Linked DNA regions of Homo sapiens: all the other regions are linked to region 2. The links come from fine-mapping of genetic effects on gene expression. A gene starts in region 2. Each other region holds a variant in brackets. All regions are shown on one strand. Distances are from middle to middle.

Evidence for each region. PIP is the estimated chance that this variant, and not a neighbour inherited with it, causes the effect. A credible set is the group of variants that fine-mapping cannot tell apart.
Region 1: its variant is the best candidate, but not a certain one, in a credible set for the expression of CDH22 in skeletal muscle (GTEx, PIP 0.78).
Region 3: its variant is the best candidate, but not a certain one, in a credible set for the expression of CDH22 in tibial nerve (GTEx, PIP 0.85).

The regions. Positions count from the first base shown.
Region 1 is chr20:46,341,166-46,345,354 of GRCh38, reverse strand. No RefSeq gene overlaps it. Among named protein-coding and RNA genes, the nearest start is that of SLC35H1, 21 kb to the left of the region's middle. The variant G/A (reference allele first, on the strand shown) is at 2,266.
Region 2 is chr20:46,306,407-46,310,595 of GRCh38, reverse strand. CDH22 (cadherin 22) reads left to right here and starts at 2,098. Exons shown (of 12, transcript NM_021248.3): 1 at 2,098-2,341.
Region 3 is chr20:46,200,697-46,204,885 of GRCh38, reverse strand. All of the region lies in intron 7 of CDH22 (cadherin 22), which reads left to right. LOC124904916 (a long non-coding RNA gene) reads right to left here and starts at 25. Exons shown (of 3, transcript XR_007067611.1): 1 at 1-25. The variant C/A (reference allele first, on the strand shown) is at 1,829.

The DNA of each region.
Region 1 (4,189 bases), 35 kb before region 2:
ATCACAGTGTCTACCACAACCAGGGTCCACAGTCTGGCTTCAGGGATGACCAGGGATCTCTGAAGAGGAAAGCAGCATCCAGCATGTGTGTGCATTTACATGTTTTTCTGGGAGACAGTGTCCTTGACCCCCAAAAGATTAAGAATCATTGGTCTATGGAAAGCCAGACTCATTCAAAACCGTGTGATCAGAGATGTACATGGTAGTTGTTCAACAAATATAAAAGGACGGATGGATGGATAATCGATGGATGGGTTGGTGGATGGCTGGATGGGTGGATGGACAGTTAGGTAGATGGATGGAGGGGTAGATGGATGAAGGATGGATGGATGGATGGATGGAGAGATGGATAATGGATGGATAGATGGATAGGTTGATGGATGGATGGGTAGATATATGATGGATGGATGAATGGGTGGGTGGATGGATGGATGGATGGATGATGGATGAATGGATGGTAGATGGATAGGTGGATGGATGGGTAGATGGATGATGGATGGATGGTGGATGGACAGATGCCATAATAGTTGAATGTATGGGAGCCACAGGAAAGGGAGCAACCGTCTGGGTCAGGAGGAGAGCAGACTTCCAGGAAGAGCTGACCCTTTTGAATTGAGTCTTGAAGACTAAATAGAAGTTTGCTAAGCAGACAAAAGAGGCGTACCTTGCAAGGGGAAAGCAGATGCGAAGGTGCAGAGATGTGCGTGAGCTTGAGGTTGGTGTGTTTGGCTGCTGTAACAATTTGTTCACCCGTGGCTGGCCAGAGGTGCACATGGGGAAAGAGGAGGGGGAGCGGGGCTACTGATCCATCTTTGAAAAGAGGAGGTATCCTGATAGGATTGTTCCATCATGTTATTTTGAACAAGTAAGTAGATCCTCTCCCCGCCCCCTAACAGTCAACAGTGGTATCTCTAGCATGAGGAGGGGGAAGAGGGAGGTCCTAAAATAATTTCATGCGAGTAAAGAGCATTGGGTCATTTACCACATCCTTTTCCATGCTTGAGCTCCTTAGTCCTGCAATCCACCCTGGGAAGCTGTTGGTTCTGAACAGCCCTGCTTTCCAGATATGAAACAGGCTCAGAGAGGCCAAGTGACTTGCCCAAGGTCACTCAGCTCTTTAGCCACCAAGCAGACAGCCCTATAGCCCAGCAGGGGCTTACACCTCCCAGAGCTCAGCAGCCCTGTGGTTGGGATGGCAGGCAGCCTCACTACCCTCCTGAGATTAGGTTACTCTGGCTAGGGACAGAAAAGGTGGCCCACTGTAGGGGGCCCAGGGCCTGGCGGCATCCTGCTGGCAATATTTTGCTTTGCGAGGAATCCCCCACTGAGCCCAAGCCTCCCATCCTGTTCCTGGGCTGCCCCATGAATTAAACATGCCCCCATGGTTAACTCAGTAATGCTTTTATTAATAGTTAATTACTCAACGTGCACTGGGGAAATGAGACTCACTCAGGCCTCGTAAATTAAGGCAGTGATCTCGTGAAGGAAGCCAATGGGAGTTCATTACCCCAGCCCCTTCCGACATTGTACCTCTGGGCTTGCCATTTAGCGGTGCTAAACGAGATGCGCTGGCGGGGGCAGGAAGGGGGGACGCGGGGACAGGAGCCTTCTGCAGGGGGAGGTGGGAACTGGAGGATGAGTGTCCACCAGTTTCCTGGGAGAGAAAGGGCCCTAGGAGATGGGGCGGAAGCATCAGCTAGGAAATGTGATCCCTGCACCTTGGCAGCTTGTCATCTGCCTGTGTTTCCTGTCACTGCTAGGGACTCGGCACAACCTCCAGGGATTCCCAGATGGGGCAAGGCCATCTGTCTCAGGTGTGGGACTCCCTCACCCCGTCTGGGCCTGGAACCGGCCCTGCCCCAGCCTCTGCTGGTGGCGTCCCCCCTCGTGCAGCCCTTCAAGCCCTGGGTAGGGAAGAGCAGATCCCTCCTCAGAGTCCAGGGCCCTGGCCTCCCCTACCCCTGCTCTCTCATTTCACAAATGTCGAGACTTCCCCTTCTAGTTTTTGTTGTGTCTGAAGCCAATTTCCCATCCTGACTGTGCTGCCGAGCTGGATAAGGGGCTTGCGCTAACCTGGTTTCGTTTTTCTAAATTTACCTTTCTCCCAGGTTTTGTTTCCCAGGAGACAGAATCCCCTCTATTTATCTTCCTAGGAGAAGACAGCCAATGTCCGCTTTGAACCTACTATGTGCCAGGACCTGTCCCTGTGGGTTATGTTCGTTGGCTTTAGTTTCTAGCCATGTGACTCCACCTCCCGGGGTGTCT[G/A]TTTCTTCATCTGAAAATGGAGATGATCATAGGACCTGAGTCTGGAGTCACTGTGATGATTAAACGGAGTGGTTAGACACTGCCCAAAACATGTCAGCTCTCTCTACGGGGCAGCTGTCATTACTTGCTTCTTCACAACAGTGCTGCCAGCTGGAGACCGTCCCCATTCTACAGATAAGCAAAGTGAGGATTTAAATACCTTCTTTGAACTTGCCTAAGGACACACAACCCAGAACTTCATGTTGCCAAAGTTTATCATGTTCCTTCCTTAGAGGCGAAGTGGGGCACCGATCCCCACTCTAGGAGGGCACACTGGCCAAGCCTGGGAGCCAGGAGAGATCTGCCCATCTGTCCTTGAGTCACAGGGTCTCACCAAGGCAGTGTAGGATGAGACGCAAGGCCCTGCAGTTGGGCTGGCCCAGGTCCAAATCCTGCCATACCCACTGGTCATCACTTTAACCCCTGGAACCTCAGTTTCCACTTCTGGAGGAATGGGCTTGAGGTAGCACCTGGCTCCGTGGGCGGCCATCAGGGCTTCCGTTTGGAAGTGCCTGACATCTCGTAGTCAGCTTTCAGAGCTCTCTGCACCTGGGCTGCTTTATCTGTAACTGGGGATAACAAAAAACGTCTCTTGCTGGATTGTGGAAGACCCTACAGAGATAAAGGGCACCAATCTGCCTTTTGAGCAGGCAAATGTAAAACAGGTGAGCTGCTGGTGCAGAGGTCAAGGCCCCTCAAAAACAGTTTAGCAGAGCTGCTGGGGGTTAAACACTGCCTGGGTGGATGAGGTGACTGCTGGCTTGATGAGGGCTCTCATGGGTCCGTGATGCAGAGGGTTGGGGACGGATCACCACCCAATGTCCTCCTCAGCTCCCAGCTGCTTTGCCAGGCAGAGGTCAGCCTCTCAGCTGTGACTCCCCAGGACTGCCAGAGCCACAAGCGGGCAAGAAGTCTGGGGTGGGAGATTGAAGCCTCCCCGGTTAGGGAGCACAAGTCGTGAAGGAGTGCGGCTCGGGGTTCATATATAATATGTAGCATCAGATTTAAATGTCACTGCTGCAGGCGGCTGACCCGGGTCCAACACAATGGGCCGCAAGGGGCAGCGCCACCGCCTCTTCATCTTCCTGGCGGTAGCTGACCAAAGGGAGGGAGATTTGGTTTCTTAAAAAACTAAACAGTTGTTGAGCACTCTGGCGTTGCCTGGGCAACAACTGAGGGGGAGAGAGAAGCATCTTATTGTTTAAAGTTATTCTTGCTCGATTTCAAAGGGCTGCTCTGAAAAGACCACATTCTCCAAGCAGCGTGGCTGGTCCTCTCCGCCGTCCCCGCCATGCCATCCCAGCTCCTGCCCTCCCTCAGCCCCCATCCCCACTTCCCAGCCTGAGGCTGCAAAAGGGGTTGTAGCTGTGCTGGACATCAGGGCGCTGGAGACAGCCTCCCTCATGCGCTCTGTGCGTTCATCCGCAGGGCAAGCAGAAACACAGAGACAACACGCCGTGCTACTGCAGCCACCCCCGACCTGGACATGTGGGCACAGGGGCACTGTGGTGCTTGGTGACTTAGGGGTCAGCTCAGCACAAGTGCCTGAACTTGGGAGTGGGCAGGGAGGGACGGGGGTGTCTCCATCATGTATGTTCCAAATGTGAACATCTTGGTTTTCAAGCCCAGACGGGGGCAAGGAGAAGGTGGCCGTGTCAGGTCATTACTCAGGGGCAGTGGCTGAGTGCAGCCCCATGATCCCTCAAGAGCATGCCAAGTGGCCTGTTGTCTGCACCCCTCTGCCCCTCCTGCAACGCTGTATTGGAATTGTTTATTCATCTCTCTTACCCACGAGACTGTTAGCTCCCTGACAGCAGGGCTGCGTCTATTCATCTCTGTGTATTCTAACAAGCTGCCTCAAATCCTTTCAGGAGCAAGGCAAATT
Region 2 (4,189 bases):
GCCATAGTGCTCACAACAGAGTGGACACTCAGAGAAAGTTTGTTGAAGGAAGGAAGAATTGGAAATAACGGTAGAATGAGCCTGAAAATAGGAAACATTGGGATAGGAAAACCTGAGGGTCTAATAAAGAGTCATGGGGAGCTGGGTGCAGCAGCACATGCCTGGTGTCCCAGTTACTTGAGAGGCTGAGGCAGAATGATCACCTGAGTCCAGGAATCCAGCCTGGACAACATAGTGAGACCCCCATCTCAAAAAAAAATAAAAATAAAAGAGAGAGAAGAGAGAGACCAGAGCAAAAGAGAAAGATGTGACAACAGTTCATTCAATAACATTTATTGAGCACCTACTGTGTGCATGCAGATGTGACAGCAACAGTGTCCCAGACCAAAACAACCTGTGGACAACTAAGTAGGTCTGACTCCAGAGATGAACAGCACACACCAGAGCCTGGAGGAAGAGGCAAAGAAGGAATGGGAACTGGAGCAAACAGCAAAAGTGAGTCAGAGCGGGAGGAGAGAACCAAAAGTGAAGAGATGCACCTGGAAGGCTGGCCTCTGGTCTCTGAAAGCATGAAAGAGTGGAGGCTAAGAATAGAGAGGAGAGGGGAAGAGAGAGATGGAGAAAAGGAAGGCGATAGAAAGGCAAGGCTGGAAGAGATCAATGAAGGGAAATAAACCAAGAGAAGGACGTAGGGGAGGGAACAGACTGGCACAGTGGAGAATACATCTCAAAATAAATAAATGAATGATGGAGTTTAGTAGGAGGGGCCAGAGGGGCAGCCAGCAGGAGAGGTGATTCCAATCATCAGCAAGACGGACTAGGGTGTGGAGATGGAGATGGAAATTGGGGAAGGAGGCGAGGAGGAGAGAAGGATAGGGGCGAGGTAGAGCTGGGGGTCCTGGAGGGCCCTGCCCCCTCTTTGCCATGAACTTCAGCAGCTGCTTGTGGGTGATTAAATGGCTGGTCATTGGCAGCTTGGCGGGACAGAGGTCTGCAGCTGTCCAGTCTCCTGTTATCCTTCACTCACCTATCTGGAAGCCATGGGGAATAGGGGGGCGGGCAACTCCTAAGGGGACCTACAACCCAAGACAAAGGGTGGGTCTATGGGAGTCACTGGTCCTATCCTACCATCAACGACCTCATATTGGGAACTCAGGAGTGGGGTGGGAGGGTCTCCTCCATTAGGCCTCATCCCAGAGAGATGAAGTAGTAAGGAGAGCCAGGCAGCCAGGAGAAAGAAACAGGGCCAGGTGGAAAAAACATCAGGGAGCAGACCAGCCGGATTTTTAAAAGAACGGAAAACCCAACCAGCAAGGAGTTTCTGGGCAGTGGGAAGATTTTATTGGGAGACTTCTCCAGGTCAAGGTGGCACCAAGTTAAGGATGGAGGTGTCTTGTTTTGCCTGCTTACTTTGTTGGTTGCAAGGATGTCCAGCGGGACTCTCCAGAGGAAAAGCCCACAAGTTTCTCTCCCGGGGACACCCGACCTCCCACCTGCCTGGAGACTCAGCCCTGGGCACCTGGTCGGTGTCCACCTCAATGCACAGTGACTGTTTCTGAACTGGCAGATCTGGTCTGTGCAAGGTGCCTTTCTGGGCAGCAAGCCGGGGCGGCCACTGTTCGAGAAGCCTGCTCCTACCCTGGCCTGCGCCCCTGCTCCTCTGAAGGCGGCCTCCCGCAGTAGTCAGGGGGCGGAAATGGGAAGCCCTATTCGCAGTAAAATCAGGTGGGGAAATAGGCTCTGGTCTCAAACTGCGGCCACCTGGGGAGCTGCCAGGCGAGGAGGTAGATGGTCCCCCTCCTGGGGGCGCTCCCTTCGCGCGGATCTGGGGTTGGAGGAGGGAGGGGCACTGTCCCCTGGGGGGTTTCCTGGGACTGGGCCGCCCGAGAGAGGGAAAGGCTGTCCCCTCCTGGTGTAGGAGGGGCGCGATCCGGGGGGCGGGGGCTGGGGTTCCCCGGCTGCGGGGGTCCGGGCCGGCGGCCGCCTGCGGCTTGGCGCTGCGCGGCTCCTGCCCGGCGGGCCCTGCATTCTCCGAGTCTCCACCAGAGGCTGCGGGAGGAAGGAAGGGATCCGTCCCTTGCACACTTCCCCCCAGTCAGACACGCACACTCCCTCGCTCCCGCTCGCTCGCTCACTCCCTCGCTCTCTCGCTCTCTCGCTCTCTCGCTCACACACACGCGCGCACACGCCGCCGCGGCTCCCCCTCTCGCTCCCGCTCTCCCTCCGGCTCCTGCGGGCGGCCGCGGGGCTCCGGACTCGCCCGCTGCCCGCGCCGGGGCTCCCGCCCCACGCAGCGTCCCGAGGCGGCAGGACTAGGGGGAGCCCCGGGCCGCTCCCCGAGGTAAGAGCGCGGGGTGCCGCGGGAGGAGCGGCCGGATCGCCGCCGAGGGGAGGCTGCCCGGCAGGGAGGGAGCCCCCTGGCCGGCGGGAGCGGCCGGGCAGGCGGCGCGGGGGGCGAGCCTCCAGCCGCAGGAGGAGCCGGGGTGCCTGCGCCCGGCCCTGCGCGCCCCCTCCTCTCGGCCGGGAGGGCGGGGAGGGAGTTTCCCACGTCCAAACTTTCCCCGGCGCGGAGCCGAGCCGCCTCTCGGCCCGAAGCCCGCAGCTCCCACCCGTCCCCACAACCTCGTCCGCCGCGCGCCCGGGAGCCTCCGGGACCCCCGCGGGCCGAGGGGTGGCAGCGCCAGGGGCCGAGCCGGCGCGCCAAAAGGGGCTGGGAAGGTGGCGCACAGCCCTGACGCGAGGGCTGGGACCCAGGCGTTCCCGGTCCCCCAACCCTGCTAGCGGGGCTCGGCTCCCCGGCCCCTCCCAGAGGCGGGGTCCGGGGCCGGGAAAATACCGCACGGCGCGAGCGTGTGCGCGCGGTGTGTGTGTGCGAGGTCGTGCCGCGTCCGGGGACACCCGGAGGCTGACTCCAGCCGCGGCGACACGCACGGTTCTGGTCCCCTCTGAGCCGGGGAGGCGGCCCACAGGGACCCCTGCCGGCCCCACCGGCGCGACCCCCCCTGCCCTATGGCCGTCGGGCGGGCTGGCGGTGAGCGAGAGCCAGCGCTGCTCTCTTCCTTAGGACCCGACTCCGGAGACACCGTCCCCGCTGGGGAAGAAGGACGGGGCCCCCGACAGCCTAACGTCCAAAGAGAGCGCCACTTAGGGCTAACCCTCGGGGGCCGCGGCGTTTACTGTGAAGAGTGGACTGCGTGGGCGCGCGGGGTGCCGGGCAGCCCTGGGTGGGCACAGTGTGGACCCGTCTCGCTCGCGCCTCCCCGCTGCCTCTTCTCTGGCAACGTCGGGCCCTGTCCCAGGCGGGGCTGCAGAGGGTAGGGCTGATCCAGGATCCCCCGAGGTCTCCCCGAGGTGCAGGGCACCCCCTTGTGGCGGGCAGAGAAGCTGCTGTTTGAAGCTGCTCAGGTCTTCCGAGGTGCTCGCTCCTTGGAACCTCTTCTCTCCAAACCCTTCGGGCGTCGCCAGGGTTGCGCATGCCAGCTTCTTTTTCCGTGGGGCTGATTCCAGCACTCCCCAGGTTTCTGGGGCTGGCCGAGGTGCCCCCAGCACAGGCAGCGGCTCATTTGAGGGCTTTGGCTGTTGCCAGCTCTCTCTCCCTCTCCACCCAGGTTCAGGATCTCATCCTCTTCTCCCACTGGTCAGCGCCAATACCCTATATCAGCATCACCACTGCCCTAGGGCCCAAAGGCTCCTCCCTAACCACCGCGACTCTCTGTCCTTCATTTGTATCCCGTATATGTGTCCATCAGTGCCCACTCCGTCCCCCTCAGTTGCCCCTAGTCTACAGCCCTTGTTGAAACTTGGCCTCTACACCCATAGTGACATCCTTTGGTCTTTGCCCACCAATGACCATTTCCTCGTCCCCCCCAACCCCGACCCATCTTCTATCCTGTCTGCCTCAGTTTTTCTGTAGCACTCAACTGTTCCCTGCCCCAGCCATTTCTCTACTTCACCCTTATTTCCCTCCTTGTCCCAGTGTCTGGGACACTCCTCTTCCATTCCTCCTGGAAGGGAAGGGCATTGCCAACATTTAAACACTGCTTCCTGGAGATGTCTGTGTGCCCTTCCCGGTCCACCACTGCCAGTGCCTCGGGGGCAGGTACTTTATAAAGCCAGCCAGGTCTCTCTCAGCTAAGGGGCACCTGTACCTCTTGGGTGGCCCCATCAGGGGACCCCTGGAGACAACCCC
Region 3 (4,189 bases), 110 kb after region 2:
GCATGCATTATATATGCACATATTTATGTAGAGGAAAACCACACGTGCACCCCAGCCAGGAAGCAGCACCCTCCCCATTTTCTCCACCCTAACCTTGACAACAGCAGCATTTTGTGCTGTTGCTAACACAGAAATGCTAGCAGGTGTACCTGGCTGGCTCCTTAAGAGGATGCTGTTAGACCTCCGGCTCTGAACAGACATGGGAGCTTGGCTCTGCCACTAACTAGCCCTGTGTGACCCAGGGCAAGATACCTGGCTTCTCCGAGCCTCAGTTTCCTCCTCTGTAAAATGAGAGTGATGACAGTATCTGAGGATTCGAAGAGCTCATGATACAAAGTCTTGCTCAACAAAGAAAAGTAAGAGCTAGTCTGTACACCAAGAACCATCTTAAGGATTTCTTGGTAGTCACTTGTCCGAACCTCACAACCAGCCTGTGAGGTAGGTATTACTATCTCTGTCTCTCTCTCTTTTTTTTTTTTTTTTTTTTTTTTTGAGACAGAGTCTCACACTATCTCCCCAGCCAGAGTGCAATGGCGCGATCTTGGCTCACTGCAATCTCTGCCTCCCGGGTTCATGCAATTCTCCTGCCTCAGCCTCATGAGTAGCTGGGATTACAGGCACATGCCACCACACCCAGCTAATTTTTTGTATTTTTAGTAGAGACGGAGTTTCACCACGTTGGCCAGGCTGGTCTCAAACTCCTGACCTCGTGATCCTCCCGCCTCAGCCTCCCAAAGTGCTGGGATTATAGGTGTGAGCCACCCTGCCCGGCCTACTATCTCCATTTTTAAGAGAAGGAAACTGAAGAACAGAGAGATTAGGTGACTTGCCCAAGGTCACACATCTAGGTTTCAAACCTAGGCAGATGGGCATCAGATCTGCACCCCTAAGCACCATTCCCAGGCCTCCCTTGCATGTGTGGGTGCACACACACACGAGCTGCCACAAACTCATATTCTCTCCCTATTCCCCCAGCCTCACCTGTTCTAGTTCCCCTTGCTGCCCTTCAGGTTGTTGTCACCAAATGAGAAGTAGGACTGCAAAATTTAAGCAGAACCTTCTAGACCCACAGCTTCCTCCTGTCCTTCTCAGACTACTGTGTCCCTACATCTTACCTCCCCGCCCCCAGGCATGCAAGCCACACACTGGGTTGGGGGGACTCCTGTGTACTCCCTGCCAGACATCTCTGAATAATAATTACAGTGACAATAGTTCCCATTCATGGAGTAATTTTCCTGGAACTCAGCTAGGCACCTTACATGCGTTTCATTCTCCCGACAACTTACAAAGTAGGATTATCATCTCTATTTTGCTGGGAATTAAAGATGGAAGTGACTTGCCTGGGGGCAATGCAGACCTGGATCCAGACCCAGGGCTGAGCTGCTGCCTCTTGAGCCACTGCTCAACTATAATGCACAATCTCACACACACAGGAACACCACTCACATATTCACGCCACACAAAACACACACTGTCCACCCACAACACAGACCAAATACACAACCCATGCGAGCACTACACGTGAGCTGCACAAGCTTCGCCCCCACCCCACCCCTCCACCCCTAAGTTTGCCAGGCCACAGTCCCTGCCACACACTGCTTCCTCCCACCCCTCCCTGCTTCCCTCCCTCCCACTCACTCTCTGGCTCCCTGAGCTGGAATAAAAACACCTGGGCTCAGCCAGCCAAACTGACCCCCAGCCCCAGGTCTTTAGCTAGTTAATGGCGGGTCCCCGCTGCCCCCGCCCTATGGCCTTAGGAACAGCTGCCTCCATTTAGATTCCAGCCCCTCCCTTCCCCTCGAGGAAAGAACAAAAGAGAAAAACAGGG[C/A]AAAGGAGAAGGAGGAAGAGGAGGAGGAGGAGCAGCAGCAGCATGGAGGGAGGAGAGAGGAGACAGCTCTGAGCCAAGAAGGGAGGAGAAACAACAAGAAGGCAGTTGGCATCCTCCCATCAGCCCGGCCTCTCGCCCAGCCCTGACGAGGGATCAGAAGCCCAGGCTATGTCATGTCTCTGGTCCTCTCCTGGCCTCTATCCTCCAACCTGTAGAATGGGAGGAGGTCTCCAAAGTTCTTTCCAGCTGAGCTGATGATGCTCAAGAGCCTCCTTCAACCTCCTTTGGACTCAGATATCTGATGGGGCCAGGCTGGGGCAAAGGGGACCCTGAAGCTTCATGCATCGAGGATTTGGCTGGTTCAACTTTGGATGGGCTGTCGGTCAGGCTAAAAAGAACTCTGGCGGCCGGGCATGGTGGCTCACACCTGTAATCCCAGCACTTTGGGAGGCCGAGGCGGGCGGATCACAAGGTCAGGAGATTGAGACCATCCTGGCTAACAAGGTGAAACCCCGTCTCTACTAAAAATACAAAAAATTAGCCGGGCGTGGTGGCGGGCGCCTGTAGTCCCAGCTACTCAGGAGTCTGAGGCAGGAGAATGGCATGAACCCAGGAGGCGGAGCTTGCAGTGAGCCGAGATCGCACCACTGCACTCCAGCCTGGGTGACAGAGCAAGACTCCGTCTCAAAAAAAAAAAAAAAATTAAACTCTGGGAGAGAATCCCCAATTTGGTTTCAAATTTCAGTTCTGTGACAGAGTCGCTGTACACCCTTGAGCAGGGCATCGGCATCACTAGCTCATTGTCACCTTTGTATAAATAAGAAACAGGCCCCCCTTTGATACTTCCTGGTCTAGGACACGTGGCTGGGCAAGCAGAAGGCTCGCTGGAATTCACCCCTGCTTCCCCACTTCGGCCTGGTATCTTTGTGCATGACACAACCTGCACAACCATACTTGGCAGCTCTAAGCTTGGCAAGTTTCCTCTCTGGACCTCAGTGTCTTCATCTGTAAAATGGGGGAGATCACATCAGCCTCATAAGATGCCTGACCGAGACCTCTTCTATCTCACTTGCCACTTTATCCCCAGAGTCTAGCACAGACCAGCACAGAGAAGGCACTCAATTAGTGTTTAGGGCATAAAGGAATGAATGGAGGGATGGTTGGGGGAGAAGCAGGCTCCAAACTGTTAGGTGCATGCTAGGGAGGAATTATAATCGTGGGTCTGAACCTCCCCACGTACTTTCGCCCAGGCTAGCGGGACTCAAGGTGGCCAGGGGCAAGAAGAATATGGGTTTAGCAGTTTAGGAACAGTATGGAGCATTAAACTGGGGGTTCAGGGGATCGGCTTATAATGCCCACTACACCCATAGGCACATCCCTTTATAGTTTGCCATAGGCATTCACCTCCAGGACAGTAAACATGAAAAGCATAAGGACTGTCCTGTATGCCCGCCCCTCCTCTAACACCACAATGTGGGGTGAGTAGGAGTCATCCTCTTTTTCAGGTGAGCAAACAGAAGCCAAGGAGTGACTTGCCCAAGGTCACACAGGTAGAATCAGTGGCAGAGGATTCAAACCCAGCTCTGACTGCTTTCAGACCCACGAAGTCCCAGTGGGTGTCAATATCCCCATTTCAGAGATGGGGGAGTTGAGGCCCAGAGAGGTTTGGCAATGCAGCCAAGGCCTCACAGACGGGTCATCTCAGGGCTCTGGGCCCCAGCAGGCAATGCTTCTGGGGTCCTCCCCTCCCCACTCTGGGAGACTACAAAAAGGCCCCTTTCCTCCTGCCTGTGGGAGGGGCCGGGTGGCTGCGCAGGGGCCCCTCCTTACCAGGCTGCTTTGTCCTGGCGCACAATGAGCGCTTGCTTGGCATTCGAGGCCTTTGTCCGCGCGCAGCCTCGCGGCGCCCCCACCAGCGTTATCAGCATGGGGAAGCGGAGGCCGGAGCTGGCGAGGCCTCTCTGGGCCGCCGCCGCCCGAGACATGTGTTGGACACGGGCCTTTAAGGCCTGGAGCCGCCACACAAAGGCCCGGGAAGAAGGCGGAACAAAGGGCTTTTTCACGCGGCAACGGAAAAGCTGCAGATTAGCTCGCGCGTGCTGCGCAGGCGGGAGGAGCCGGCGGCCGTGTCCCCAGGCCCCCTCCCACGGCACTCGCCCAGCGCGTGTCCCTGGGCGTGTCCACGCCGCGGCCCCCAGAGAAGCCTCCTAATGCCACAACTGCCCCCCTCTCCCCTGCTCAAAATTCCCCGTTGGCTCCCCAGTACACGCCAACTGTGCTGTGCCGGTGTGTTCTGGTGCCGAATTCTCCCCACTTCCCGGTTCGAACCATTTTGCAGTGTTTGCCATTTCTGGGATAATT